Linked DNA regions of Homo sapiens: regions 1, 3 and 4 are each linked to region 2. Evidence: fine-mapped expression QTL. A gene starts in region 2. Each other region holds a variant in brackets. All regions are shown on one strand. Distances are from middle to middle.

Region 1 (8,113 bases), 32 kb before region 2:
CAGAGGTGAGAGCTTAGGATTTCTTGGGTCATTTCTGAGTATGTGTACATCTCTGGGCATGCATGTGGACTTCTAGATTCTCCAGTTATTATGCAGAAGGTTTTCCAAATTTTTATTCCCTCATGTACCCTCTTTTCCCAGTTTCTTCTTTCCTATGCCTTTCAGTCTATCTGCTGCTTTCCCTATCTGTTATCCCTTGTCCTAGGCTGCTACAGCTAGTATATTTGTTTCAAATGTTTTTTGACAAACAGCAGAGGCTCCAGCCCTGAGAAAGTTCTGAGGCAGGTGAAAGAAAGGCAAGCATCTGAGCTCATCCCTCAGGGAGCCATCATACAGGTCAAAACAATCACATTTTTTAAAGAACAAGGTCCATTTTACCCCCTCTTGGACCAGTAATCTGCACCAGGAACACGGGCCACCCCAAGACCACTGCCCAGCTGGGCAGTGGGGAATGGTAGGTGGGTAAGTTAAGATGTTCTCATCAAAATTAGTAGTTTGTTTCTTCATTAAGCATTCTCCTAATTTTTGTAAGTTTTTATTTAGATTGTACAGCTTCTAAAAATTAATTCTAACAGTTTTTGGCAGTTTAATCAGAGTTTTGTAGTTCCCCAGTGTGTCATTTTCAGTGACGTTACTTCATAAATTGCCATTTTAACTACACAGTGAAATTCATCATTAAAGACTGGTGAAGAACATAAAGTTACATTAATGTTTCAGAAGTAGGTATTGGAAATTTTAAGTTACTGATATCAATATTATATGATTTGCTCTCAGAAAGAATTTAACACAGAAATTTAGAGAAGCACCAATTCCATAGGGTTTTTTTGAAATATTTAAATATATTTTTATATCTATTTACTTTTTCACTGTTAGCTTGTGTTTTCTGTCGAAAACATGATGACTGTCCTAATAAATACGGAGAAAAGAAAACTAAGGAGAAATGGAATCTCACTGTACATTACTACTGTTTGGTGAGTATAATTTATAATTAAATTCTAGAAATTTGGTGTTCTAAAGAAGATAGTAAGATTCTGACACTGATTTCTGAGAATTGGATAAGTCATTTAACTTCTCCAGATCTCATTTTGTCTATCTCTAAAAATAGACATTTTGTTTTTTGATATTGAATTCTAAGATTCTGAAGTTACTTAGTACATACAAAGACCTATCATTATTTCGTGTTTGTTTGTTTGTTTGTTTTTCTTTCTTTCTGTTTAAGGCCTAAGTGAAAAAAGGAAAAAATGATTAGGTCTATAAAGGAGGTATTTCTTTTACCACTTTCTTATTTCATTTGTTGCTAGTGATAAATCTGAGAAAAGATTTGTTTGAGGGTTCAGGGAGTGGAATAAAAGTATTTTATTTCACACAGAACCTGAAAAGAAACGTCTTGGCTAAAGGTGATAAATATTTTTGGAAAAGGAAACCAGTTACTTTATGTATCACTCAGAAGAAAGCAAACGAGTGATTTCATACTCAGAATTAGTCTCCCTTTGTTCCCCCTCCCCTCCACCAATTTCTCACCTCACTGAATTCATGCCTTAAGATATTAGTGGCACATTACCACCTTAGCATGCCAGGCTTGCATTAGTACATACAGTGTTTCTTGATACTATATAGTTATCTGCTGCTTAAAAAATTATTCTGAAATTTAGCAGATAAAACGTTTGTCATCTCACATAGTATCTGAGGGTCAGGAATTTGGCTGAGCTGGATAGTTCAGGCTCAGAGTCTCATGATATTATCATTGAGATGTCAGATTACAGCTGAAGACTTTACTAGGTTGCAGGATCCATTCACCTCTGATGGCTCTGTCATGTGGCTTTTGGCCTCAATTTCTCCTAGCTAGCGTCAGGAAACCTCAGCTCCTTACCTCCTGGGCCTCTTAGTAAATAAGGCTACTCGTGGCATGGCATCTGGCTTCTCCCAAAGCAAGTGATGAGAGAGACAGAGAGAGAGAAATCAAGATGGAACCATATGACCTAGTCATCACAGCCACACACTAATGTCACTTTTGCTTTATTCTGTTAGAAACAAATCATTAAGTCTAGTAGCCCACACTCAAGAGGAATTAAGCCCCACTTCTTGAAGTATCAACAAATTGTGGACATATTTTCAAATCTACCACCATCCATGTTAAAATTATTTCAGTGCTTCTTTGAGAAACCACCTGAAGTATTCCTTGGTCCTCTAAGACTACAGTCTTGTGCCTCCGTACCTCAAAGGTTAAATAGAGTAGTAGACTGGCCTGGGAGCTTATTTATAAGAGAACATGAAGTTGTCATTCCAAATATGTTTATAAGTTACAGACGATTATGTTTTGCAGTAAAAAGAAAATCTTTCCATTTTTGTAAGTTTATTTTACTTTTTTTTCAGTCAGGAAAGGATTATTTTACTTTTCTATAAAGTAAAAGGATTATTTTATTTTTTTCTATAAAAAGTAAAATAAAAAGTATTATTTTACTTTTTATGCAGTAGAATTAGGAGAGCCATTTTATGTGTCTGCAGGTTATGTTTTCATAACAAATTCTTAGTGTGTATCACTTGTTATCACTTGTTTTTCTTTACGATATACTGGTTAAAATTCTAATCACAAATTTGCTCTACATGGTGTTTTCAAATTATGTAATACATTTAAGTTGATCAGATCAAAATTTCTCTTATGTTCTGTCTTATTCAATGAATATAATACTTTAAAAAAAAAGTACTGACCCCAGACTTAACCCTTTTAATATTCTATTTCATTATGAACAGAAAAGTATAGTGATGTTACAAATGGCAATAGAATGCTAGAGCGGAAAGAGACTTAGATATAGTCTAATCCAGTGTTTTTATTTTCATGTTTAAGGTTTGAGACATTAATACTTGCCTAGGGTTCCAGAAGTTTCAGCAGAGCCTGGCTTGCAAGCCAGGATTTCTTATTCACATTCTACACTTTCTCTGATTCAGGCTTTCTTAACATGTATAAACAATGAAGCTTAAGTCAAATTTTTAAAAAGTCAAACATTTATTACTGTCACATTGGGGGTTAAGGAAACTTTCTAAAATCAAACATTTATGTTAACTAGGGTTCAATAGGTTTTCTTGTAAATAATGCCTTAATGATTCAGAATTCAGCTAGATTTAGAGTTAGCCTGAAATGTCACTGAATTAATCTGAATTGTCTCCATCTGTATTCACCACTCCTTTTTGTTAAGCTTAATTGTAGGTGTTCTTTCTTTCTTTTTTTCTTCCTCTAACCCACCTAACCACTCACTGCCTTCTTTCCTATCTTTTCTTTTTCTTTCTTTTTCTGTTACTTCCTGGAATACTTTTAGAAACTAATTAGGATATACAAACTGATAATATACAGTGCCATCTAAATCAAACAATGTAAGTAGCCTCTTACTTTGACCATGAAAAATAACTACTATAGATAACTACTTGAAATTTGAGCCATTTTATGTCTGTTTTTTATTAGACTGAATAGTATGGATATATATTTTTTTAATGCCCAACTAGTTTCTTAGAGTTTATTTTCTAATTGAGAATATATTCATAGTTGATGTCAAGTGGAATTTGGCAGAGAGGCAAAGAAGAAGAAGGAGTTTATGGTTTTCTAATAGAAGATATCAGGAAGGAAGTGAATAGAGCTTCTAAACTGGTAAGTAAATTATTTTACTATTAAGTAATGTCATAAATATTGTCAATACTTGGGAAGTCTTTTCTATCAGTTTCTGTACTAGAAATTTATGACTTTGATTATAGGTTTCAATGCATATTTTGTCATTTAAATATGGTAAGTTTTAGGAGGACAGTTTATATTTTTGCCCATTAAAGAAAGCTTAATTGACCCTGGATAATACATGTGACAATACTGACTTCACTTCCTTATCTTATTCCAACATGTCCATCAGAATTGACCATCAGAATTATGATCTGATGGTCAATCTTCTCTGACCATCAGAATTATGATCATAACTCCACTCTGCTGTTCTCTAAACCTTTGATCCTGAGTCAACCCAACCATATACTTTTTTATTCTTATACCTCAGTTTCTGAGATTGGAATGTTGGGTTGAGTTAGAAATTACACAGCTTTCCAGACTGGCAATTCATGATCTCCATATCTCCTGACCCTTCTCTAACATTGTGTGATTATATTCAGTACCCTTTTCTATTCTCTAGGATAGGCATTCTAAACTTTAACTCCTTGCTCATTCAGTTATCATTTGTGCATCTTCTATATAACAGCCACTATGCTGTATGCAGGGAAACGTCTCCATATTGTCTAAGTAAAAATAATGAGAAAGAATGAGAAGATTTGAAGTACAGGGAGTTCTGTTTAGAGAATGTGATACTGGCATTAATGATTTTCATGGGGGAGCATTTTGGGTGATGAAGGGATTCATCATTACACTGGAGGGGAAATGAAGGACACTGACACATTATAGTTGAAGAAGTCAAAGAAAGATTATCCCATAAATGCTGAAGTTGTTTAGACTTTGTTTTCCACAGATGCCAAAGTCTTGAGGTGGAGGAGTGACTAGGAAGTTAGCAGATAACAGAAGGGTAAATGTCATTAGGCTCAAAGGTCCAAATTTTTCAAAGTGTGAAAATCAAGTAGTGGCCTATAATATTCAACAGAGAACTAAAATAATGTTCTCTTTGTCCCCTTTCCTGCCCCTGTCCATGTCCCACCCCATGTCAAGTCTGGAAATTAAGGAGGATGGAAAAATAAGCAGCTTTATTCAAGAAGGTCTACAAGGGAAGCACATAAGAAACATTTATTCTTTTAGTTGAGGCAAAGAAGTGGAGGCAATTATTTTTGAAGATATCAAGAAGGTAGGAGAGTTAATGGTAAAAACAGAGGTTCTAGGGCACAAGGAAGAACCGTGGGAGAAAGGTGAGCATGAATCTAAGGACTACGTGAGATGTTAAAC[G/A]TGAGATATTAGTATCATAATTCCTAAACTTCCTGGTGATAGTGAGCTTGTGGTAAAAGGTGGTCTCTAAAGGTCCCCTTATGGTTTGGAACTACAGATTGAATATCCCTTATCCAAAATGCTTGGAACCAGAATTTTAGATTTGAAATTTTTTTCAGATTTAGGAATATTTGCTTACCAGTTGAGCACCTCTAATCTGAAAATCCAAAACCCAAAATGTTCCAATGAGCATTTCCTTTGAGCATCATGTTGGCACTCAGAAAGTTTCCTATTTTGAAGCATTTTGGATTTTAGATTTTTGGATTAAGGGATATTCAACCTGTACTTATTTTCTTAAAACATCCGAATCCTCTCCAAGTATATTGTGAACCCTTGAAAAGAAGAGTCTCATTTGTGAACTCAAACTAGAATTCCTTGTTGTCAGTTCATTGGGAGAGTTTCGGGTTGGCAGGTATTCTCCAGTGACCTAGGTGGTGCTCAAAGGGGTCAGCAGTAACTCTGTAATCCCTGAATCAGTGACCATTTTAATTGCCGTCTTAAGGGTTCCAAGGTGTTTTAGGTACTGTTCTGTATTTTGCTAATGATTGATTCATTTAATAATTTTTCTATTTATGTACCACTGTTACATTTCAGTTAGCGGCACTGGTAGTATATTCATTTCCTAGGGCTGCCATAGCAAATTGGCTGCTTAAAACAAATTTATTCTCTCACCATTCTGGAGGCCAGAATTGTAAATCAAAGTGTCAAAAGGGTTCCTTCTAGAGGCACTAAGGGAGAATTGATTCCATGCTTCTCCCCTAGCTTCACATGGCTGCTGGCAACCTTTGGAGTACCTTGGCTTGTGGCAGCATAACTCCAATCTGTTTCTATCTTCACAGGCCTTTCTCTGTATATGCCTGTGTCTTAAATCTCCCTCTCCTTTCTCTTGTAAAGACCTCAGTTATTTGATTTAAGGACTACCCTAAATCCAGGATGATCTCAAGATCCTTAACTTAATTACATCTGCAAAGACCGTATTTCCAAGTAAGTTCACATTCACAGGTACTGGGAGTCGGGACCTGAGCATAACTTTTTGGAGACCACTCTAAATCCACTGTAGGTGTCTCAACACTTTTTCATTTGGTCAGAATAGAGTGATCTTAGCCTTTTTTACAAATTGGTTTATAGTATTTTCCTATTCTTCTTGGTGAGTGTTGCCTAATTTATGTGCTTTCTCTTGAGATTTCAATGAGGTGTTTATGTATATAGCTTTTATGTTTATAAACCCTTCAGTTTAAAATATTTTAGTAGGAAGGAAAAGGGGCTTCTCTGTCTTATCCACATGTTAGGCTAGAGATGTTTTCTTTATCGAAATTGTTATAGGAGTGAATCTTTGGTGTCTTTAGATTGTTTCTGGGTAGAACAGTTTTTCAGGAAATTTATTTAATATACCCTTACCACAGCTGTTACATGATGAAATAATTTTCAGATTCCCCACCAGGAGTATTTATTTATGTCTTGATCATATTATAATACTCAGATTTTTTATGTTGTGACCCCTATTTTCACATACTCTTCTAGAAATGCTGTGTTTGCAAGAAAAATGGTGCTTCAATTGGATGTGTTGCACCCCGATGTAAACGAAGTTATCATTTCCCATGTGGACTTCAGAGAGAATGTATTTTCCAGTTTACTGGCAATTTTGCGTGAGTTATTTAACTGTTAAATATGAAAGTTCAGTGTTAAAGAATAGTGGAAAATACATATCCCAATGATATAATACTACAATAAATTTTCTGTTTAGAGCATCAGAGTTTAGATATAACATTATATGTATTACCCTCCCGCCCACCCTTATGGGGTCATTTCTATGTGCCAAGTCTTGAGAATTACCATGTCTAGGATGGACCTAATGATTAGCTTTCATTTTCAATTTTCAGCTTTTGGATATAACATGAAATTGTTAATTTATCCATAATTCAGTGAAAATCTCCACCTTTACATAATTCTAGATTTCTGTGTCACTCTTTAGAATTATTGTAGACTTATTCTTCACAGGGCTGTATGCATTTCGAGTAAATCAAAGGCATGTAAATTTGATTGAGTACACAAAGTAAATATTATGCCCTAGGATACCCCTGAAAATATTTGCTTCCTGAGTACAACTTTAAACATCAAGGTTTTATGAATTTTGACTTTTGGTATCATAAGTATTCCATTTCTTTTAGTAGTTGTGTTTTTGACCTATTTAATGGATTGTTATCATGTAAGAAAACTACAGTTTAGAAAATACAAATGGAAATAAAGTGAATTGGGAATAGGTTATTAATTGCATTTTATGTGTTATATGACTAAACTATTTTTTAGGCGTAAGTTCCTGCCTCCCTTAATTTTATACGATTTTGAGCACAACGTATGCACCCATTTGTTGAATACAATAATGTATATACTGTATTGCTGACAATATTACACAGGATTCTCAACATAATTATTAGTTTCTGAAATTCTGTATAAGTAAGTCTCACTACCAGAAAAGTTCAGATTTCGAAGGTCCAGCTCTCTCCTTGGTCATAGATTGTGAGACTTAATTTTTAGTGCCAAGGCTCCAGTCTGTTGTAGGTGAATTATGAGACAGACACAAATGAATTTCATTTTATATATGTGAATTACAGTGTTTTCCAAGTTTTGCTTTGCAGTTCATGAGATTTTTTTAAAATAATTTACATTTTTAGGTCATTTTGTTGGGACCATCGACCTGTTCAAATAATTACATCTAATAATTATAGAGAGTCCTTACCATGCACCATTTGCTTGGAATTTATTGAGCCTATTCCAAGTTATAACATATTACGAAGTCCTTGTTGTAAGAACGCTTGGTTTCATAGAGACTGTTTACAGGTAAGATACATATTTTGTAAGCTTTCTCTGATTGATATAAAATTATGGCTTGCTGATTTAAATTTTAAATTAGAAAGAATTGACGTGTATATTACCTCTTACTACTTGTTACTTTTAAAACAGCTTTAAAGCACTTAATTTGAAGCAGATTTTACATACAAAATTCACCCTATTTAAGTATACAATTAACATTCAATAAATACTTCAGATGAAACTTTTTAATGTATATTTATACTTAAAGAATTTTGTTGTTTTTACCTAAGGATTTTGTTTGATTTCACAATGAATAAACTAGATTTTAATTCCTAAGTTTCATTT
Region 2 (8,113 bases):
GTCTGATCCATAATCATTTTAGATATTTGAATGATCTCTGTGGATTGGTAGGTTTGGCCATTTGACCATTATTTATTATCAAGTTGGTTGTATGCTAAGGTAAGTTGACGCCATAGCATTATACAGTTATCTTCATTGCTCTTGAATGATATCTGTTATATAAGCAATGTATAAATAAAGTAAAAAGGATAGAATGAAAAACCCATTCTAATGTCACCACTCAGAGATAAGTACCGTATTTCTGTGTATCCTTCTATAAACTCTTTACTTCTGTTTCCTTTATTTTTTAACTTTAATAATGCTACTAAAAGACAATACCTAAAAGTAACTGTACTAACAAAGTGCTAACAATGTGAAAATATATAGTCCCATAGTCATGTCCCCATATTTATACTCCCACAGAAGAAAAAATTGGAAAACAAAGTCTGATGTCCTTAATCTATTAACATATTTAAATGATATAATGGTTCAGTTTTCCATGAAAGTAAATCATTATGGGAAGTAAAATGTTTTAACCATATTTTTCTTAATACACAAAGCAGGTGTCAGCTGTTGTATTCTCACCCTTCTTAAGAAAAATCATTACATTATTGATATTTTTTAAGTAACAGAATAGATTTGAAAGAGATAATATATCTCTTAATACCAAAGGAAAACTAAAACATAATTCTAGTGTACTTTTCTTTGTTCCCTCATGTCTTTTTCAATCTGTACACTAACATACCTAGCAAATTTGTTTTACTTTAACTTGAAATATTTAAGAACATTAAACAAGACATTTCTTTGGCTTTGGTTGAATTTTTTTGTCTCACCAATAGTAATTGAAAGATCAATTATCAAAGAGTTTGAATAGCTAATATAAACCCCAAAGTCACCATACAGTTTTTATTCCAAATATGTTGATAAAAAGATATTTGTTTCTTTATCCACCTTATTTTTATTACAGCTAAAAACCAATACAAACCAATAAAACCTAGTTAAAGCTATTTTCTGGTTTTTAGTTGCAATTAATTTCCCCTAGGGTAGAAATTAAAGCTGATTAAGTCACACACACATACTTTGTTGGGGTGGGGGTGGCAGGTGGAGAGGCAGTGTACTTGGGTTAGCTACAATTAAAAACAGTATTTCAATTCCTCATTTGACTTATTTTATATATAGACAGGGCCTTAGTGATAAGATGGTGTAAATAATTTAGGATATTCATGTTTTAAAGTGAAGCATAAATATTTATTTTGCAAAATGTTTTCTAGTTTGAAGGATGTTCCATTATTACCATTTTTAGATTAATCTGTATGGTCAAGGAATATCAGAGAAACCTGTAGGTTATTTATTTTCTGCAGTGTCATTTTGTCAAATGGTTGGTATTATAATTGTTCTTTTCTTATTAATTTTATAACCAGTGCATAATTCTTACATTAGATTTTAAAAAAGAATTATGCTATAAATCTTTATAAATGTGTACATATATTTCTTAAATATTGCAATTGCCTAAATGTTGTATATTTTAAGGCTGTTTTCTCTTGCTCTTAATGTTGAGGAAAACTATAAATTGATCTATAATGCATCTACTGTTAATGGTTTTGGTTAGTTTGATATTCATTGTTTTTAAACACTTTCCAATATGGAAACTTTAACACCTTTTATACAATTCTCTACTATTCAAGATATTCTTTAAAATATCTCACCAGAAACTTACAATTTTATACTTTGTAATTTTTAGTTTCTGTAATTTGAGGAAGTGACTTTTTTTGTTTGGGTTAAGTAAAAAGCCTTTGATTGATTACCAGCATGAGAATTCACCTTGGTTTCTATTTTATGCATTTGTAAATTTTTCCCCTAATTATATGGAAGCTATTGGAACTTTTGTATTCAGTGCTAAATACTAAGTCAAGGGGAGTATATTAGGTAAGTTTTTTCAGTGACTGTGCCTTTAGCATTCAGTCATTATAAGAAAATGATCAGAACAAAATCATTACATTATAAACATGTAATTCTTTTATATAGTGATTATCATGTACTGCATTGTTACTTTAAAATAAGCTATTAAACTAGTTTTTATGGTTCAAGTAATGCAATACAAAGTTTCATGCTTCAAGTAATGCAATACAAAACATAACCCATTTAATGATGAATTACTTGAATGTATATTATCTGTGGTTTAGGAAAATTTGGATTGTCTTGAAGAGACTCAGTTTTCAAGTTCTGATTTTGACCATTATCTCTTCTAATTCATAAACATATCCCAGTACCTACACTATGCCAGGTATTATGCTAGGTGATCGTTTATATGTCAGCCTATTTCCCCCCCTTTTAAAGACTGCCAGATTAACCAAAAAGCGTGACATTTATAACAATGTTTTATAAATAAATAAATGTGTTTATGCCACTAAAGGTAAACTGCCTATTTAAACTAAGTAATTTTTTGGGATTTAATAAGATTAAGATTCTGACGAAACTGAAAGATACAAGATTCCTTTACTCTCCACATTTGAGAGATCCTATAAGCAAGCAGTTAGTGTCTGACACCCAGGAACCTATAGAAATGAGGGAATCTGTGTTAAAACTATGTATCCTCTAATGTAAAATAGCTTACCAGAATAAATTATTTAAGCCAAAAATCTGGACTCAGATAAATGGCTATAGTAAATTAGGTTAATGAACAATCTGTAGCCATAGATTATTTTCAGTCTTTCTGATTCTAATAAAACAAATACCTTATTCAGTCTCAGCCTTACAAGGGCTATTTGTCTATGGTTGCTGTTCTTCTGTGAGGTGTATTTTTCTATAAATTTATTGCCCACATTCTGTGCACTTGGTCAGGAGTTTTTATCATTTCATATATATGCAGTGTACATCAATTTTAAAATTGTCTTCGTGGTTTTAACATGACTCATAGTCTTGGGAGAGAATCTGTGATGGAACTGAAGTGGCTCAATGATGGATTTGCATTTGAAAGTGGAAGTACCCAAATGAGCAAAATTGGGCTCTCAGACATTTTATATTTCATAGAGACTGTAGAATGCAGTAGAACTTTCCCATAGGGCAGAAATAATTTGTTTAGTTGGAACACACCTAGATCATTGAAGATTCCTTCAAAATATTAGTAATAGTACTGAAGACACACATGTATTCCAGTTAATTTCTTAATGAATGTGCCAATTAGCTATAAAAATGAGATTACATAATTTTTTTTTCTTTTTTGAGACAGAATCTCACTCAGTCACCCAGGCTGGAGTGCAGTGGCGCGATCTCTGCTCACTGCATCCTCCGCCTCCCAGGTTCAAGCAGTTCTTCCTGCCTCAGCCTCCCCAGTAGCTGGGATTAAAGGCGCCCACCACCACACCCGGCTAATTTTGTATTTTTAGTAGAGACCGGGTTTCACCATGTTGGCCAGGCTGGTCTCGAACTACTGACGTCAGGTGATCTGCCCACCTCTACCTCCCAAAGTGCTGGGATTACAGGCGTGAGCCACCGCACCCGGCAGAGATTATGTAATAAGATAACCTGTTTTAAATGTCACAAAAATAAATTTTTATTAATGAAAAAAGCCAGTGTTTCACACTATAAAACAATATATAATCGTTAGGCTAACCATTTCATTTATATAATTGTGAAAGTTAAGCTTTTGAGGTACAGAGTGATTTCATTTCAGAATTTGGTGCAACTTCATAATGAAGCGTCATCAATGAACTCGGGAAATGAGGTGTCATTGTGTATCCATTTTGGTCATACAGTAAAATCTATGGATTAAGTTAGAAATCATCTATCCCATATATTTTGCGGTCACGTGGCTTCAAGTGTACATTAAACCGCCAGCACAAGACCAGCCTGGCCAACATGGTGAATCCCCGTCTCTACAAAAAAAAAAAAAAAAAATTTAGCCGGGCGTGGTGACCCCTGCCTATAGTCCCAACTAGTGGGCAGTCTGAGGTGGAAGGATAGTTTGGGAGGATCGCTTGAGTCCGGGAGGTCGAGACTACAGTGAGCCGAGATTCTGCCACTGCACTCCAGCCTGAGCGACAGACAGTGAGATACTATCTCAAAAACAAAACAACAACAAAAACCAGCACATCAGCCTGGCCTGATGGTGTGCCCCTGTAGTCCCTAGCTACTTGGGAGACTGAAGCAGGAGGATCGTTTGACCGTCAGAATTTGAGGCTGCAGTGATCCCTGATTGCGCGCTCCAGCCTAGGCAACACACCCCACTACTGCTTGACTTCCTTCCCACGGCAAGGTGATTTTGCAATTACTACAAGGAAAGAGGAGAAATGCTAATTTCTCATTTTGTACCTCCCTGGATCCCGTGTCCATGCCGGCAGAACGCCACCATAAAGCTACACCTTTTTTTTTAAAGAGATGCGACTGAGAAATATGCCAGATCAGAGTAATGCTCCAATGCTTTCCGTTTCTCTGGAGAAAGGAGCAAAGGGAAGACTCCTGCTGCACTGAGAAACGAGAGCTAACGTTAAAATGTTGCCTGTGTTTCAGGAGCTTCATTTACTTCAGTCCTGTGGTCCTTATACTCCTAGAGCATTATCACCCTTTAAGTGCTCTGTAAGTCACCAAACCAACAGTTCAGTAATTAGGTTCTTAGCACTACACGCTCCTACCCTAACAGCTCAATTTAATGTTGCTACCATTTGAGAGAGTGTGGCTTGATTCGGTAGGATAAAAACTCTTAGTATTCGCCTAACATTACGGGCCACTGAATTAACCTGCACCGGGTCTCCCAGTTCTACCGAGAGTGGAGGTCTTCCTGGAGGAGGTGGGGTCCGGAACTCAGGCACACCCTTTGGCCCCGCCCTTCCGGGCTTTGCTTCCGGGGCGGTAAGGGCAGCCACGTCATCCCCCCGCTCCGCTCCCCAGCCGGGCAGTGGCTCGTGGGAGCCAAGATGGCGGCGGCGGCGGCAGCGACAGCAGCAGCAGCAGCCAGTATTCGGGAAAGGCAGACAGGTACTGACTTATTCTCTTCTCCTTGAAGCTTCGTGACTGCCCCGACGACATCCTTCTCCTCTGGTGCGTGCAGCTCAGAGACCGATCTCCAGGAGTTTAATCCAGTCCCTAGAACATCAAGAGCCCCTCCCCTTTGAGTTTTTGGGGAGAAGTTGCCATTAGCTTGAGGACTCGGTTCCTCCTGTGGTGCAGGAGAAGGAGCTTCAGCGGTGGGCGGATTGCTACGGCCCTGCTCTTGTCTCCTTCCTAGTGGGCATCAGAAGGCCATCACAACAAGATCTAGCAGCTGATAGCTTCTTATCTATGTTGCCACCTATGAGGTCTCCGAGTTTCTGTGCGTGGTTCAGTTCTCCTGGTTTTGATTTTTAAGAGAACTCCCATTTTCTGACACTCAGAGAATTTAGGTATTTTCACAGCGGCTTGCTTTGCGCCACTTCTCTACTTCGGACCAGTCTTTTGGGGGTACCTGCAGAAAAATGCCTGGTGATAAACATTTTCTCCTTCAGCTTGCTGGAAGGCATTGAAGAATGGCAAAACAAATGAATTAATAGCTTTCTCATTTTAATTGTTTGACACATTGTTTTAAAATAATATTTTATCTTCAATAGAGCATGTTTATATAGCTTCTATTTATGCAGAGAAATGTAAAAAGGCACATATTCTTCTCTTGAGTTTTGGGTTTTTTTCCGTCTTAGAAATTAGTTTTGCCTTACTTGAAAACTTCTCATGACAACTTGGTTTATACCTGTTAGCTACAAACTAAAGGTTTATACTTGTTAACTAGTTGTCTTAAAAGTTTTCAAGCAATTTATTCTGAGGAGCTAATAGAAATAAGGCATCAAGAATGTGCATACTTGGAATTCTGTTTCCTGAAATTATGCTCTGTTGGATATAAATATGAATAGGAAAATAAATTTATAATTCATATGACCTACAGAAGGGATTTGGGCTGTACTTGATTCCTTCCTTTGGCATTTAAAGAAAAAGTGATAGACTTCAATTTAGTAATGACACACAAAAGATACTGAGTTGCGTTCTGCTTTTCCCAGTAAATAATTTAGTATAACCTATCAGGTGAAGTCAGGCATAACTAAATATAGGGAAGTTCAAATAAGATTTGGGGCATACCTGCCATTCGTTGTATATGTTTAAACAAATGGAAGCTCCATTTGTTTTAATACTGTGTTTCTGATGACTATACTACATATTAAAATAACGTGTCAGTAAAACTGTACCAATACAAGAGAGCTTTTTGAAAAATAAATTTGCGTGGCCGTAAACTTGTATGCAGAAATTTTGTAGATCATTAAAATCTAATCGTTTGTATTTCTGCAGAAATAAACATAGTAAGATTTTACAGAATTACTAGGTAGTGCTAGATCTATTTTTTATCAAATTTTTACTGTCATTGAATTCTGCCTTATTTTCAGAGGAAGGTAAATCCTTGTATATATATTATAATGCAGAATTAGCTATTTCCCTCATGCCTATGGAGAATGTTTTGGGAGATAACTCACAGTCCTTAAATATTCTAGATACTAGAATATTTGGGTGGATGAGATAATAGTTGGCATTTATTGAGCATTTACTATTGTTAGGCATTGCATTAGGTGATTATGTATTATCTCCATTTTACAGGTGAGGAAAGTAAGATAGAGGTAAACTAACGTGCCTGTTTCTTGCTTTGCCTGCCTGAAAAATCTTTATTGGTCTCCTGAAAAATCTTTATTGATCTTTTGAAGGTCATCCCACAAGCCATCTCCTTTCTTCCTGGTTCACTGTCCCCTCTATCCATACCTTCAGTTCAATAGGTAGAATCAGTTGCCTCCTGCTCCGTGTTACTGTTGTTCTTCATTGAATGCGTCTTCGTTACAGGTTCTTGCACATCTTCCCAGCTTCTCAACATTGCAGGGTCCCATTAGTGTTCTCATCTAGCGCCTTAGCTTTCAGTATTATCTGTATGTTGATGATTCCCAGGTTTATATCCCTAGTCTGGCCGTCCCATCTGAACTCAGTCTACTCCATATCAGTTAATGGCAGTTCCGTCCTTTTAGTTGTTCAGGTCAAAAACCTTGAAGTTTTCTTGACTTGTCTCTTTCATGTCTCATGTAAGATCTTTCAGTAAATCTTGTCAGTTCTACTCTGAAAATACATCCAGGATCTGACTGTTGTCATTGCTATTCCGAGGTCCTGTCCACCATGAATTTCTGCAGTAACCTATTTGGTCTCTTTGCTTTTACAATCCTGTTCTCCTTCATTATTTTTCACACAGTACCCAAACTGATCATGCCATATGTTTGCTCAAAATCTTCCAGCATCTTCCCATTTCAACCATGATAAAAGCCAAAGTGATCTTACAGTGTTCTACAAGGCTTTATACGATCTGGTTTCCATGTAGCTTTTGGACCTCACTCCCTATTTCTCTTCCCTCTCCTTGAACCCACCAGGAATGCTCCCACCTTCGAGCCTTTGTATTTGTTTCTTCTTTGTGGAGTACTGTTTCAGAGATAATCTCCATGGCTCACTCCCTCACTTCCTTTAGGTCTTTACTCAAATGTTACCTTCTCAGGAGGCTTTCCCCAATTATTCTGTTTAAAATTACACCTCAACTCCATCTTCCCCTTTCCCAATCTTACCTTTCTTCAAAGCACTTACCATGATCTACATACCATATGTTTTACTTTTTTTTTATTTTATTTTTTTTATCCCCCAATTAGAATGAAAGCTACTTGAGGACAGGCGATTTTATTCACTGTTTTGTTCAGTTGCTAGATCCCCAATAACTACAGTGCCTGTGGTGAGCACTCATCAAACGTGTTGAATGAATGAATAGTGTGTATGTAAGTAATGACATTAACCAAGTCTAGGAATATGGATACAGGTTGAGTATCCCTTATCCAAAATGCTTGCGACCAGGAGTGTTTTTGATTTTGGAATATTTGCATTATTACTGGTTGAGCATCCCAAATTTCAAAATCCGAGCACCAGCTTAAAAAATTTTGATTTTGGAGCATTTCAGGTTTCAGATATTAAGACTTGGGATGCTCAACCTGTAGTATATTTAGAGCCAATAAGAAAAATGGTTTGTCATTTCAGATAAAGTCATGGTTTAAGCCTTGGGTAAACTCTGATAAAAGTAAAATTACGTTCTTGTAAACTC
Region 3 (8,113 bases), 79 kb after region 2:
GGCATGTCAAAGTTCAGGAAAGGAAAGCAGAGTGTCCACATGTGGGAGTAGTCTAGCAAGGTGTGTGAGAACCATAACAGATTGAGGAGGGTGACCCCTGCACAGGAACAAACCAGCTTGGGCCTAGGTGAGGTGAGACGTATGTCTAGGTATGTGGATGGGTCCACTGCAGGAAATCAGAGCTCAAGTGAAGTAAGAAGGGCATCCATGCAGCAAGCCCATGGAAGCAGAGATGGGATATTTGTTATATACAGGGGACTGGCTAAATAAATATATTGGATAATATAAAGAAAGCCCAATTTCCCATTGTCAGAGGAGGAATTTATAAATATAGAAAGGGAAAAAATTAGAATGAACCCTGTAGTGTTGGATTGGAATTAGAGGTGTTGGTGTGAACTTAGTGTTTTCGCTATATATCTGTTCAGATACAGAAATAAATATAGATTGTATGTTGGGGGGGGCGGTGTATACTCATGTATTCCGTAACTCTGCCAACTGAAAGGGCCTGGGAGCAGCAATGCCCAACTAGTAAAGATGCTGCCTTATAAATACAGTTTCCACTAGGACTCCTTGGAGAGGTAGCTGATTCCAGAGGTGGGGCAGGGAGCAAAAGTACAAAATGAGTCTGGAACATTTTTGTTGTGTCAGAAGGCAAGGAAGCTACTCCAAAAATGATGGAACTTGTCAAAAGAACCCAGAAGTCAGCTTGAATAGGCTCCAGATGATGACAATTTGAGCATCAAAATAAATAATAACAGATTATAACCCACTGATAAAAGAGGATGCCAAGAGTCCATGTGGACATAATAAATGAATAAATTGAAATTTCATAGGATATTTATGCAGTTTCAGAATACCTCCCCACAAAATACTTATTAACTGTAAGAAAAAGTAACGGTGCGGTGGAGAAGCCTGATAAATACCTTATTAGGTAACCACAGTGAACGTCGTCAGTAGAGAGACATAAAATAGTGGGAAAGTACTAAGCAGATTGTGGAGAGGAAGGAGCTCAGGAAAGGCTGAGAGGTAAAGGGCTAGTAGGATTCAGTGCAAAGAACACAGCATCACTGTTGTGATATTCTTGCCTCGGTATAACCTAAATCTAATCATGAGGAAATATTAGACAAAACTTAATTGTGTGATATTCTAGGAAGAAACCAGCCTATAGTCTTAAAAAGTAACCAAGGCCATGCAAGTCAAGGAAAAATGGAGGAACTGTTTCATACAGAAGAAGACTAAAGAGGCATGACAACTGTATGTGGCACATGATTCTGAAATTGATCCTTTTTCCATTAAATATACTGTAGACATAATTGGTAAAACTTCAACTAGGATCTGAGAATTAAATGATAGTGAATGTGTCATGTAGTATATCACATCGCTGTAATGGTGCCAGTGTTAATATCACATTTTGCTAATTGTTTTACTGAGGCTGTGTTAGAGAATGTCTTTGACATTTGGGGGTAATGGGACAGCAGGTCAGCATCTTACTCTCAAAATTTCAGGGAGAACAAAAGCTCTCCAAACTGTACTTAAAATTTTTCTCTAAAATACATCAGATTACTCAGTAAGGGAATTCTAACTTTAAAGCAGCAGTCAAAGGAGAGAGGTGCGTGTGACAAGAGGTTCCAAGCTGTAGCTACAGGCTTTAGAATAATCATAGTTGTAAAGGACACATGCTGACAATTTCAGTTTGGTTTCCCTGTGGTTATGTCATTATAACCATCAGTATGCTCCCCAGCCCTTAGCATCAGATTGGTCTTTAAAACCTTAGCAGATGTTCTAAGGCAGTTATTAACACTGTAGCAGTTTTAAAGTATGTTTCCTCTTGAAGAAGAGTGGGAGCTGTTCTTTCTTTAAGCAAAGTAAGTATCTACTATTAGAAAAGGCTGTGCTAGATGCTGAAGATGCTGGAAGCAAACTCGGGGACCCACAGGCCCTAAAACTCGGAGGGAGGGGAACCTTCCTCTTGTATATTAGGATCTGTGGTCCCAAGCGGGTAGGACAAGCCTCATTACTCTTTTGCCCTTTGTCCTCTAGCTGGTTGATCATAGTTGCGGCAGTTACGGCAGGAAGTGCTCAGTGAAGCAGGGTGACCAAAGCCAAAGCTTTCTAGCTGGGGCACCAAAAAGGGAAGGCCAAGGAAATGGGAAAGTACCAGGGAGATTGTGGAGAGGAAGGAGCTCAGGAAAGTAACCTCATAAAGTTGTTCATGAATTCCTGGGTTCACCCCTGAACTGCACATCTATGAAGCTGATCCTAAACAGCATTTCAAAGACTGAGAGGGGAAGAGCTAGAAGACGACCTCCCAGTCCCCAGACTGACCACTGGTTCATGGGACAGATCTCAATAGCACTTCAAGAGGTTTTGAAAATAGAATCGATGATGGAAGAATAACCTACGGAAGGCTGGTAGGAACATTAGCCTGTACTGAATCAGGCTAATTACCTGTTAAAACAAAAATATCAGTATTGTCCTAGGATTTAACAGGACCTGGAGTCTCATAACCTAATATTCCAAATGCCCCAAATACAATATTTATTTGTAAACATGAGAACTTTAGAGAACTTACCATTATCTTTATTTTACCATTCTTTGTCATCTTCAGGGAGTACGGATAATTAGAGAATGAGCGTTAGTGTTCCAAATCATATAAAAAATAAGTGTCTTATCAGTCATTATGTTTTGAAGAAAATCAGCTAGTTTTTATTCTATCATAAAATACAACAATTCTGAGTTCTTGCATCTTAGGATGCACTTTAAAGTGAGACTGAATATTGTTATTTGTCGAGAACAATGCTTTATCACCTTTCCACCAAAGTGCACATACATGATAGAAGAACAGACAATAAATGAGTTTCTCTGGACAGTCTTGGGCTTTGGGTACTAAGAGTAGTAACTCAGAGCACTGCAAGCAAGACATTACTTTGAAGTCTTATGTTTTGTCTTAAAATTTGAGGCAAATATATTCTATGTGATATAACAATTTTTTTAATAAAAATATATTGTTTTCCCATTCTTATAGTAATATAAAAGCCTTCAGAAACATGTGTATTTAGGGGCCCCCCAATTTGAGAAGTATGGCTTTAGGCTCAGCTAGATGATTTTGTTTAGCCAGCAAAGTCTCATAACCCAATTCCTAGGGTGACCATACATCTGGTTTCCCAGGATAGTCCCACTTTCATACCAGTTGTCCTTATGTAATTGTTACTGGCACCCCTTTTGCCACCTCAAAAGTATCCTGTTTCAGAATTGTATGGTTACCCTGCTTATATCCTTTCCTTTCATTGTGAGTTTATATCTAAAAGGGAAATCTCAACATTATACACAATTTGGAAGATACAATAGAGATGCTCTCATAATCACAGCCCTCTAATCCCACCTCATTTAATCTTTTCCATATTTGTATTTTACATGGTTATAATTATATGCCTGTTACCTTAGTTAAATCAAGAGCCATGTTTTGTTTTGTCACATTTATATATGCCTTGAAATGTAACATACTTGTGTTGACTATAATACATAATAACCACAATTATGAAAATATTTTTTAACCTCTTTTCCCCTATGCAGCAGGAACTCCAGAAGATAAAATGAGGTTGTTTCTTATCTATTATATAAGCACACAGCAAGCACCTTCTGAGGTATGTCCTTTATTCAGTTATTGGGAGGAAGGGGAATGCTTGTTTGTAGACTACTACAATTCAGATTTTAAAACAGAAGTAAAAATCACTGTGGCTAAATATCTGCTTCATTTCTTTCTTTAAAAGAAAAATGGCCAGGCGTGGTGACTCACACCTGTAATCCCAACACTTTGGGAGGCCGAGGCAGGCAGATCACTTTGAGCGCAGGAGTTTGAGACCAGTCTGGGCAACATGACAAAACCCCGTCTCTACTAAAAATACAAAAATTAGCCAAGTGTGGTGGCGTGCGCCTGTAATCCCAGCTGCTGGGGAGGCTGAGGCAGGAGAATCGCTTGAACCTGGGAGGCAGAGGTTGCAGTGAGCCAAGATCATGCCACTGCACTCTAGCCTGGGTGACAGAGCAATACTCCATCTCAAATAAAATAAAAGAAAAAAAAGAAAAACAATTTGTTAAGGCTGCTTCTATGTACTGCTGTGTTTTATAGCAACTTTTATTGTTACCAGGGGAAACTACCCGTGAAACATCTGACTACTTTTAAGTTGTTGGAATGTAAACTGAATTTCAGTGGCCAACATTCTTATTTTTGGAAAATAACTATTCTAAACTAAGTTAATCAGATTTGCTATGCTTTTTGAAAGGTTGACCTTATTTTAAGATTGTTTTAAAACTAATGTCCAATGTAGAAAATACGTTGTCTATTCTGTAAAAGAAAGTGGTGATTTTGGTATCAGACTTCTTCTGGGTTAGAGACTGTTGACTTTAATGTTAACTGTATACTTTTACTGGATGAGCAAGAAGCATAAGAACCTCAAGATGACATTTAGAATGTGGCTGTTCTAAGCTCCATTCCTTTGCTGGTAGCAATTTTTTGTTGTTGCTGTTGTTAGTATCTGGTAAATTGATAGGGTTTCTGTTGGTCAAAAATCTTTGGCATATTAAGACAGCAAAACTAAACCTGATATTTGCTCTCAGCCATTCTGCTTTACCCTGGGAACACAAAGCTTTACTTCTAATTTTTTAAGAAAGTGTGGTTTTCTTTTTGTAAGTATCTCTTTCAGGCCAAGGTGGGAAGATCACCTGAGGTCAGGAGTTTGAGACCAGCCTGGCCAACATGGTGAAACCCCATCTCTACTAAAAATACAAAAATTAGCTGGGCGTGGTGGTGCACATCTGTAATCTCAGCTACTCGGGAGGCTGAGGCAGGAGAATGCCTTGAACCTGGGAGGCAGAGGTTGCAGTGAGCCAAGATTGCTCCACTGCACTCCAGCCTGGACAAGAGTGGAACTCCATCTCAAAAAAAAAAAGTATCTCTCTCATCAACAGGGGTTTACCTATATATCTCAGGG[T/G]ATTCTAATAGCCTAATTAAAATATTTTTCTTAAGAATATGTGATTTTAAAACTTAATTCAGTGTTCCCTTAATTTAACCACATTATTTTTATTTACTTTTGGTAAGGATTATGTCTTTTCATAAATTTAAGTGATCGTTAAGATAGGCTCCTTTAAGTTACACAAATTCAGCCAGACTTATCAGAAAATGAGTAAGGAAGAGTGAAAAAAAAAAAATTTAAAAGTGCGGGACACCTGTTGTCCAGTTAATGAATCTGGACCCCTAGAATGAAAATGAGATGAGAAACCGAAATCTGCAGCTCCCCTCAGTTGGTGTCATTCCTCTTGTGTTTCTGGTTTAGAAATATTCTTGGTCAAACCAAATCATTCATTTAGTGTGTGTCCTGAAGAAAAGCAGTCTATCCCAGCAGTAAAGGAAAAAATAGCTTTGTTGGACTTGCTGAGAAATTTAAAAATACTGTACTTTTATAGGTGATTTGGGAGCCTCTTAAAGGTAATTTTCATTATATGTGATTTTCTTGTCTTGGGTGCTCACTTGGGTACTCACTTAAGACGTGACTCCACTCTACTTGGGTGCCAAGAATTTAAACTCATGCCTTTGGTCTTACTTTTTAATTAATCAAATGGCAACAAATAACATCTTTCTTGAAAGTAAAATTTTTTGTCATATAGTTCTTTTCTTATTTCAGGCTGATTTGGAGCAATATAAAAAAGCTTTAACTGATGCAGGATGCAACCTTAATCCTTTACAATATATCAAACAGTGGAAGTAAGTTTTATTTTCTTCTTTAATTCCTGTCATTTAAAAGAGTACAATTGAGGCTTCATTCCCAAGAAAATGGGAATGCTAATAAGAAAACTGAACAATGCCTTGGTGGTTTTATATATCCAGTGGCATAAATATTTCCTTATCTGGCCCACCCTGTTTACAACTTAAAATTACATAAAACAGTGATGCCTTTCTTTCCTGGGCAAGCTTTATAGTTTCTTTACTGATAAGGTGAGAAAGTCAAAGACCGAAATGTCTGGAGTCAAATGTCTCCAAGGCATTAAGAGGAAATTTTAATTTGACTAGTAATCAAAGAAATGCAAATTAACATAATGCAAATGTTTAGAAAATACCATGCCAAGGATACAGGAAAATTCACTTGTGCATTTTATACTCTGCTATTAGGAATATAAATTGTCAAAATTTTTCTGGATGGTATAAAGAGTTCTTTAAAAATAGCTCTGACCTAGTACTTCTCTTAAGGATTTATCCCAAAGAAGTAATTGGAGCTAAGACTTTAGACACAATTGTAATAATGAAATTTTTAAAAGCAACCTAAATGTCTAGCAGTAGTGTTAGTAAGTATATTGTGGTATTTCTGCAAGATAAATACAGTCAAGTCATTAAAAATCAGAAGGCTTACTTAATGACATTGAGAAATGCTCACGTTATATTGCAAAGTAAAAAAAAAAAAAATTATAACACTCTTCATTGATTTGTTTAATAAATATTTCCTAATAGCGAGCATGATAAACAAGGCCCCAACTGTCAGTGAATTCACATTTGTGTTGAGGAAACAATTAACAAATAAGCAAATAAATGAACAGAATAATGTTAAACCATGTTAAATGACATAAGAAATAAAACTAAGTGGTAAGATTTTAACCTGCTGGGGGTGATAGCTAAATTTGCTTAGGAGATCAGGGAAAGCATCTAGTAGGCAGTCACATTTGAGCCAAAACTTAAATGACATTTTTTACAGTTATGATCCCTGTTTATCCATTTTTTCATCCATATGTATGTGTTCATATAAGCATACACATAAAAACATGTAATTACAGAGTTGAAATGGCATACAACTAAATGTTAATAGTAGATAATTCCAAATAGTAGAATTTTTTTTCCTTTTGGGTGCTTTTCTTTATTTTTCAAATTTTCTACAAAAACTATTACCTTCAAAATAGTTTTTAAAATAATTAATTTTTTAAGACTAAAGGATTAAATAGGCTTTCTGATCACAATTACATTAAAAAAAAGCATAACAAGAGAATTACACCAAGTTGTTAACAGTAGTTATCTCTTGAGTGCTGAGATTATGAGTGCTTTTTATTATCTATACTTTTGACTTTTGAAACTTACTTTTGTCTGTGTTCTTGTAATAAGAAAAAAAAATACACAACAAACCTTTGTTTAAAAGGAAAACTGAAAACTGTCTTTCCCAATTTTTATAATACAGGTTGAATCCCCCTTATCCAAAATGCTTGGAACCAGAAGTGTTTTGGATTTTTGATTTTTTCAGATTTGGGAATATTTGCATATATATATATATATATATATATATATATATATATATATATATATATATATAAATAATGAGATATCTTGGGGATGGGACCCAAGTCTAAACAAAAAATCAATTATTGTCTCATATGCATAGCCTAAAGGTAATTTTATCAATATTCTTAAGTTGTGCATTTGGACTGCAACCTGACAAGAGGTCAGTGTGGAATTTTCTCATTGTGGCATCATGTCTGCACTACAAGTAAACATTAGTGTATATTCTTTCATTGTTTATACATATGACAGATTTTTTTTCTAGAGACAAGGTCTTGCTCTGCCACTCAGGCTGGAGTGCAGTGATACAATCATAGCTCACTGTAACCTCACAGTCCTGGGCTCATGATCCTTCCATTTCAGCCTCCTTAGTAGCTAGGACTACAGGTGTGCACCACTGCACCCAGCCAGATATTTTTTAAAACTGGGAAATCATTTTTAGAGATACAGTTTTGTATTCTAGTTCTTAATAACTTTCATCATGCCAGTTCATGGAAGTATTTACTGTTTGCCTAATATTAAATCATATAAATATACTGTTATTTATTTAACCCTTCTTTGTTGTTTAGATATTGTTTCTAGTGAAAAACTATTTTTTGTTGTTGTTGTTAATGCAGAAATTCTAATCCACTGCTGATTCACATCATCCTTTCTGAACAAGACTGAAATTTTTGTTTGGGATTTCTCTAAGGGTATTGTTGGCACATTTTGTCAAGATTGAAATTGAATATTTTTAGCATTTCTACTACCACATCTTAGTGATTTACATTTTTTTCCCTTATAAAATTTTCTTTAGGT
Region 4 (8,113 bases), 48 kb after region 2:
TTAAAAGACACAGACTGGCAAATTGGATAAAGAGTCAAGACCCATCAGTGTGCTGTATTCAGGAGACCCATCACATGTGCAGAGACACACAAAGGCTCAAAATAAAGGGATGGAGGAAGATCTACCAAGCAAATGGAAAGCAAAAAAAAGCAGGGGTTGCAATCCTAGTCTATGATAAAAGAGACTTTAAACCAACAAAGATCAAAAGAGACAAAGAAGGCCATTACATAATGGTAAAGGGATCAATTCAACAAGAAGAGCTAACTATTGTAAATATATATGCACCTAATACAGGAGCAAAACAAGATTCATAAAACAAATCCCAGATTCACAAAACAAGTCCTTAGAGACCTACAAAGAGACTTAGACTCCCACACAATAATAATGGGAGACTTTAACACCCCACTGTCAATATTAGACAGATCAACGAGACAGAAGGTTAACAAGGATATCCAGGAATTGAACTGAGCTCTGCACTAATAGACATCTACAGAACTCTCCACCCCAAATCAACAGAATATACATTCTTCTCAACACCACATCACACTTATTCCAAAACTGACCACATAGTTGGTAGTAAAGCACTCCTCAGCAAATGTAAAAGAACAGAAATCACAACAAACTGTCTCTCAGACCACAGTGCAATCAAACTAGAACTCAGGATTAAGAAACTTACTCAAAACCGCACAACTACCTGGAAACTGAACAACCTGCTTCTGAATGACTAATGGGTAAATAACGAAGGCAGAAATAAAGATGTTCTTTGAAACCAATGAGAACAAAGACACAACATACCAGAATCTCTGGGACACATTTAAAGCAGTGTGTAGAGGGAAATTTATAGCACTAAATGCCCACAAGAGAAAGCGGGAAAGACCTAAAACTGACACCCTAACATCACAGTTAAAAGAACTAGAGAAGCAAGAGCAAACACATTCAAAAGCTAGCGGAAGGCAAGAAATAACTAAGATCAGAGCAGAAATGAAGGAGATAGAGACACAAAAAACCCTTCAAAAAAATCAATGAATCCAGGAGCTGGTTTTTTGAAAAGATCAACAAAATTGATAGACTGCTAGCAAGACTAATAAAGAAGAAAAGAGAGAAGAATCAAATAGACGCAATAAAAAATGATAAAGGGGATATCATCACTGATCCCACAGAAATACAAACTACCATCAGAGAATACTATAAACACCTCTATGCAAATAAACTAGAAAATCTAGAAGAAATGGATAAATTCCTGGACACATATACCCTCCCAAGACTAAACTGGGAAGAATTTGAATTGCTGAATAGACCAATAACAGGCTCTGAAATTGAGGCAGTAATCAATAGCCTACCAACCCAAAAAAAAAGTCCAGGACCAGGTGAATTCACAGCTGAATTCTACCAGAGATACAAAGAGAAGCTGGTACCATTCCTTCTGAAACTATTCCAGTCAATAGAAGAAGAGGGAATCCTCCCTAACTCATTTTATGAGGCCAGCATCATCCTGATACCAAAGCCTGGCAGAGACACAACAAAAAACGAGAATTTTAGACCAATATCCCTGATGAACATCAATGCGAAAATCCTCAATAAAATACTGGCAAAGCAAATCCAACAGTACATCAAAAAGCTTATCCACCACAAACAAGTTGGCTTCATCCCTGGGATGCAAGGCTGGTTCAACATATGCAAATCAATAAACATAATCCATCATATAAACAGAACCAAAGACAAAAACCACATGATTATCTCAATAGATGCAGAAGAGGCCTTCGACAAAATTCAACAGCCCTTCATGCTAAAACCTCTCAATAAATTAGGTATTGATGGAACGTATCTCAAAATAATAAGACCTATTTATGACAAACCTACAGCCAATATCATACTGAATGGGCAAAAACTGGAAGCATTCCCTTTGAAAACTGGCACAAGACAGGGATGCCCTCTCTCACCACTCTTATTCAACATAGTGTTGGAAGTTCTGGCCAGGGCAGTCAGGCAAGAGAAAGAAATAAAGGGTATTCAATTAGGAAAAGAGGAAGTCAAATTGTCCCTGTTGGTAGATGACATGATTGTATATTTAGAAAACCCTATTGTCTCAGCCCAGAATCTCCTTAAGCTGATAAGCAACTTCAGCAAAGTCTCAGGATACAAAATCAATGTGCAAAAATCACAAGCATTCTTATACGCAAATAACAGACAAAGAGCCAAATCCTGAGTGAACTCCCATTCACAATTGCTACAAAGAGAATAAAATACCTAGGAATTCAACTTACAAGGGATGTGAAGGACCTCTTCAAGGAGAACTACAAACCACTGCTCAACGAAATAAAAGAGGACACAAACAAATGGAAGAACATTCCATGCTCATGGATAGGAAGAATCAATATCGTGAAAACGGCCATACTGCCCAAGGTAATTTATAGATTCAATGCCATCCCCATCAAGCTACCAATGACTTTCTTCACAGAATTGGAAAAAAACTAAAGTTCATATGGAACCAAAAAAGAGCCCGCATTGCCAAGTCAATCCTAAGCAAAAAGAACAAAGCTGGAGGCATCACACTACCTGACTTCAAACTATACTACAAGGCTACAGTAACGAAAACAGCATGGTACTGGTACCAAAACAGAGATATAGACCAGTGGAACAGAACAGAGGCCTCAGAAATAACACCACACATCTGCAACCATCTGATCTTTGACAAACCTGACAAAAACAAGAAATGGGGAATGGGTTCCCTATTTAATAAATGGTGCTGGGAAAACTGGCTAGCCATATGTAGAAAGCTGAAACTGGATCACTTCCTTAAACCTTATACAAAAATTAATTCAAGATGGATTAAAGACTTAAATGTTAGACCTAAAACCATAAAAACCCTAGAAGAAAACCTAGGCAATACCATTCAGGACATAGGCATGGGCAAGGACTTCATGACTAAAACACCAAAAGCAATGGCAACAAAAGCCAAAATAGACAAATGGGATCTAATTAAACTAAAGAGCTTCTGCACAGCAAAAGAAACTACCATCGGAGTGAACAGGCGGCCTACAGAATGGGAGAAAATTTTTACAATCTACCCATCTGACAAAGGGCTAATAACCAGAATCTACAAAGAACGTAAACAAATTTACAAGAAAAAAATCAAACAACCCCATCAAAAAGTGAGCGAAGGATATGAACAGACACTTTTCAAAAGAAGACATTTATGCAGCCAAAAGACACATGAAAAAATGCTCATCGTCACTGGTCATCAGAGAAATGCAAATGAAAACCACAATGAGATACCATCTCACACCAGTTAAAATGGTGATCAGTAAAAATTCAGGAAACAACAGGTGCTGGAGAGGCTGTGGAGAAATAGGAACGCTTTTACACTGTTGGTGGGAGTGTAGACTAGTTCAACCATTGTGGAAGACAGTGTGGTGATTCCTTAAGGATCTAGAACTAGAAATACCATTTGACCCAGCAATCCCATTACTGGGTATGTAGACATCTGTAATTTTTCAAATCCTGCTTTTTATGTCAAAGAGAAAAATGGCAAGGAAATAAACTATTATAAAAGATTTATTTGAGAAAGTTACAAGGTTTATGTTAAGGACCTAGAGTCAGTATTGATAACCTTGTTTTATCTAAAGGAGACTGAATTGCATTCAGTATATTTAATTTGCTAAGACCTAGAATAATCATTAATTCAAAATATATACAGATACCTTAGAACTAAGATAATTATATTTCAGTCATGCTGGATAATTTCTCCATACTGTGTCTTCCTTCTTCATCAATCATTTACTTGTTGATAGTCATGTTTTATCTTTCACTATTCTTTAGTTGGCATTAAACCATAAAATGCTGCTATTTGTGAGGGAACCCATAGATGTAATGCAAGAAGTTGGGGGAAAGAAAAAAGATACTTACTTTTATTTTTGCCTAATGGTTTTTGTGGGTTTGGTTTGGTTTGGTTTTGGGTTTTGGGGGGTTTTTTGGTTTTTTTTACAGAAAAGGTACAAAAATCAAGCCTCACGTGAATAAAATTAGTCCTAGGCAAGAAAGTTTAGCCACTACTGGCCTGACTCTTAAAGTTTGTGTGAAAGAGGGGCATCACTTATTATTATAGCATCTATTGTAATTTTTAAAATTGCAGTTCATCACTCAAGTGACACATCAGAATGTTGACTCTCTAAGAGTTTAAAAATATTTAAGATAACATTTGTTACTGGAAATGACCAAGCATCAGGAGGCCTGGTTGCATAAGTTGATTTAGCCAAACATTGGACTACTGTGTAGTTATGATAAAGATGAAGTAAATGTACATATACAGATACAGAAAGAGCTGTAAAATGTATTATTAGATGAAAAAAGATATAACATGTACCCTGTAATCCCATTTTAAAAAATAAAATTAAGAGGATGTGTATGTGCTATTATATGCATCAATGTTTTTCTAGAAGGATACACAAGCATATTGACATGTTTTTCTCTTTTTCTTGTTTGAAATTTTAATATACATCTAATACTTTCATTAAAATACAGAAACAAAATTACATTTGTATGTAACAAAAGATTGGGAGGAGAT[G/C]TTTTAAATTTCAGATCTATATTTTGTCCTTGGAAACATTAGAAAGGGCAACAAGATTCTATTTTTATTAGACTTAGAAAACAGTTGTTTAACACAAGATTACTTTTTCCTAGGATTTCCATTTAAACAGGGTTAATTTGGAAGAATCTTCAGGAGTGGAAAACTCTCCAGCTGGTGCTAGACCAAAGAGAAAAAACAAGAAGTCTTATGATTTAACTCCGGTTGATAAATTTTGGCAAAAACATAAAGGAAGGTAAGCAAAATATCAATAAGTAAAAGATTCATTTTTTTAAAGAGAAATTAAGGTGTCATCCACCTTAATGAATTTGAGAAAAAAAAGGGTCATGTAGGTTCGTTCACCCAATGAGTGGGGGCTGTAATTAGATAGTCTGTAGATATTTGTCTTTATTTCTCCATTTCTCACTGATTCCTAAGTTGTTTTTTGTTCATTGTTGTTTTATAGGGACCGCTTCTCCTTTCAATGAGATCATCCTATACAGATAGTCTTTTTCAATTTTGTTGCTGTCTCCACTGACTCTATAAGACCATCTCTGCCTTTCATTTAAATTGGCTTTTGTGATTTTGGGGGTGATTTTTTCCTTTTTGTTACATGTTGCCCTCATGTAAACCTTGTTTTAGATACTTGTGGAGAGAGTACCTAAGCCTAAAAGCCTAGAAATTTATTCAAAGTACATTAGAAATAATGAGTGATAAAACTGCATTAATTTGCCATGTGATTTACTGTGGGCAGATATACATATCCCATGTGATGCTATGCCCCCTTAAAGTTTAGGGTACTTCATGGGCTCAGTTACTGCTATAAAAGTTATCTAGTGATCATTATGGCTAGAGCCATCATTCTAAACAAACAAAAATATTATTCCTCAGAGAAAAAGAATACTGTTCATCAACAATTATGAAAATATGATTTTTAAAAAATATTTCAAAATGTGTGTGTGTCCTTGATATAGCTGTTCTTTTTGGGCTTATATTTATTGTTTAAAGAGAAGTCGAATATAGACTTGGTTCAACATGCTGGGTTTTTAATATGCTTTATCTTTTTTTTACTTACAACTTTTTTTTAAGCTGGAAAATCAAATCGCCATAACAAAGATTTGACTTTCTCTGCAGAGAAAAGTCACTGTCTTTCTCTTTCTCACTATGGCAGTTTTAGGTACTATTTTAATTAATTTTAATAAATTTGATTTTAAATAATACTCTTCCCTTTGGAATTCCATAATCTACGTTTCCCTCCAGAATGGTGAAGTACAAGAAATTACTTTTATTAGAGAGGCATTATTTATAGAGAATACAGAATATTTTGAAGTTGGCATTCCCTAATAGAGAAAAGCTTAAGAAAAAAATCTCTGTATTCAAATATGGAAATTTTGAATTTTTTTAGAACATATGTTTAAGAACAATTTAAGAGGTCAGTTGAATAGTAAGAATTTTAACCTCCTATTCATTAAGTAGGAATAGCTCTTTTGCTCTGCATCTTACATACAATAGTAACATGGGCACAAAGACACTTGGAGATAGCATAAACAAGTGACCTAAACCTCTCTGAGCTTCAGTTTCCTCATCAGTAAAATAGGGAGATAATAATTCTACCTATTGCCCTATTTCAGAAGGTTGTTGAGAAGATTGAGATAATGAATTTAAAGGAGTAATTTGCCCAAGTCATCCAGCTTTCGTTGGTAAAGCCAGGGATGAAACCCAGGTCTTGCAGACCATAAAGCACCCAGTCTTAACATTGAATAGTTAAGTTATGATAGTTACCTCAACAGATTCATCAGGATTAAATGAGGTTGCAGTGAGCCGAGATCACGCCATTGCACTCCAGCCTGGGCAACAAGAGCAAAACTCCATCTTAAAAAAAAAAAAAAGAAAGAAAAGATAAATTCTTAGCATGGTGTTTGATGTATAGTAAAATCACTTAATAAATGTGAGCAATTATTCTCTGTTAACTCTGAGACCTAAAGATATCAGAGATTTTGAGGATTATCCAGTTCAACCCACACATTTTACAGATAAAGCTAGGGCCCTGAGAGGGTAAGAGCTTGCCTGTAAAGGAAGTTTCCATTATAATTAGATGGAACAAGGGTTTCTGACTCCCCAGTGCAATGCTGAGGCCTCAGTGCTATTTTTTGCCAACATAGACTCAACTGGAGCTGGAGTAAATGCCTGTGCTTGTGAGGTAAAATTGGACTGTGTTCCTCAGAATCCTTTCTGAGCTCCTGTCTTTTCTGCTAGTCTCCATTGGATAAAATGTGCTTGTTATTAGAGAGGTATTTTCAGATGTCAGAGCTGAGGAAGGGGGGAAAGGTTTTTGTTCACTGTTAATGAGACATGACCTTTTCTTTCTTAAAGGAGAAAAGGCTTCTGGCCTCCCCCTAGGCTGTAGATGAAAAATACTCATTTTAAGAAACATTTAATGATCAACATGTATTCACCTAGAGTTTGTCAAGATTAGTACAGTGTTTTCTACCTGAGTGCTCATGATTGCAGATCACTTCTGCCTAAAGTCTATGTAAGTTACTGCTAAACCACAATGTCCTGGTAGAAGACATCAGGTATTAGGCCACCAAAACTGTGGCCCAAGTGCTATTTTTACCAGTAGTGTTCTGGGATATTATGAGTTCTGAGTTACAAGAATTTTTTCACAGTTACTTGCAGGTGATATTTTTAAATGCTGTCTTTGTAGTTGCATGGACCCTTTGACATGACGTGTTAATTTGGATGGGAATATTTAATTGATATTTGATATAACATGACTTGTCTTCCATTGATTTTCAGTCATGTAAATATTTTACTTTTTCTTCTAAAAACGTATAAGTGAAGAGAATGTATGATACTGTTAATGAAAAATAGAAATGAAATTTAAATTTTAGATGTATATTATATGCATTTTAAAGAAATAGTATTATATAGATATCAGAAAGATATGTAGTTGTATTTGTGCTGAATCTTTTCTGCCTTTGTTATATATAACATATATTCAAATCCAAATAAGTATATTTAAAATAATAAATGTTCATTGTATATATTTTAGAATTTACACAAAAATTGGTCTTTTAATGTCATCCTCATAGTTCTTGTGCAATACTGTTTTAGTCCATTCCCAGAAGTTGCAGAATCAGTTCAGCAAGAACTAGAATCTTACAGAGCACAGGAAGATGAGGTCAAACGACTTAAAAGCATTATGGTAAGATTCTATTTGCTTTCTAAGAATTATAGGAAAGAGGAGGATTATCTGTTAGATAAAGAGATTTGGGTTTTTTTCCTTATAAAAATTGAAGGCCATTTAATGCTTTTATAACAAAAATATTTTCAACTTGCGTAAGTGATCAAAAAGAAATCTAAATATTGAGAAGAGAAAAAATAATATATGATTTGAAAAAATATATAATGTAGCATCATTTTAGAGATGTATGTTCCAATGCTGCTCATTCTACCATACTTCGATGTAACTTCAGATTTCAGCTCTACTGTTTATTGCTGTGTGACCTATGGCACGTCTCTGGGCCTGTCTCCTTATCCAAAAATGCC

Which allele goes with the higher level. Alleles are on the strand shown, and positions count from the first base shown. SD is a standard deviation of normalised expression in the study named. Not every link is listed here.
With allele G in place of A in region 1, the expression in CD4 T cells of the gene that starts at base 4,873 in region 2 is higher (moderate effect, 0.54 SD a copy in CEDAR).
As copies of G replace C in region 4, the expression in whole blood of the gene that starts at base 4,873 in region 2 goes up (moderate effect, 0.42 SD a copy in GTEx).

Evidence for each region. PIP is the estimated chance that this variant, and not a neighbour inherited with it, causes the effect. A credible set is the group of variants that fine-mapping cannot tell apart.
Region 1: its variant is the best candidate, but not a certain one, in a credible set for the expression of SCFD1 in CD4 T cells (CEDAR, PIP 0.57).
Region 3: its variant is the best candidate, but not a certain one, in a credible set for the expression of SCFD1 in whole blood (INTERVAL, PIP 0.52).
Region 4: its variant is the best candidate, but not a certain one, in a credible set for the expression of SCFD1 in whole blood (GTEx, PIP 0.55).

What each region holds. Positions count from the first base shown.
Region 1 is chr14:30,585,845-30,593,957 of GRCh38, forward strand. G2E3 (G2/M-phase specific E3 ubiquitin protein ligase) reads left to right here. Exons shown (of 15, transcript NM_017769.5): 3 at 874-971; 4 at 3,539-3,640; 5 at 6,479-6,603; 6 at 7,630-7,795. Among named protein-coding and RNA genes, the nearest start is that of G2E3-AS1, 13 kb to the left of the region's middle. The variant G/A (reference allele first, on the strand shown) is at 4,919.
Region 2 is chr14:30,617,447-30,625,559 of GRCh38, forward strand. It overlaps SCFD1 (sec1 family domain containing 1), which reads left to right and starts at 4,873. Exons shown (of 25, transcript NM_016106.4): 1 at 4,873-4,953. The coding sequence starts at 4,893. It overlaps G2E3 (G2/M-phase specific E3 ubiquitin protein ligase), which reads left to right. Exons shown (of 15, transcript NM_017769.5): 15 at 1-2,618. RefSeq lists enhancers at 4,207-5,406, 4,476-5,155.
Region 3 is chr14:30,696,615-30,704,727 of GRCh38, forward strand. SCFD1 (sec1 family domain containing 1) reads left to right here. Exons shown (of 25, transcript NM_016106.4): 16 at 3,574-3,644; 17 at 5,682-5,761. Among named protein-coding and RNA genes, the nearest start is that of SCFD1, 78 kb to the left of the region's middle. The variant T/G (reference allele first, on the strand shown) is at 4,992.
Region 4 is chr14:30,665,579-30,673,691 of GRCh38, forward strand. It overlaps SCFD1 (sec1 family domain containing 1), which reads left to right. Exons shown (of 25, transcript NM_016106.4): 11 at 4,678-4,817; 12 at 7,679-7,769. Among named protein-coding and RNA genes, the nearest start is that of SCFD1, 47 kb to the left of the region's middle. The variant G/C (reference allele first, on the strand shown) is at 4,565.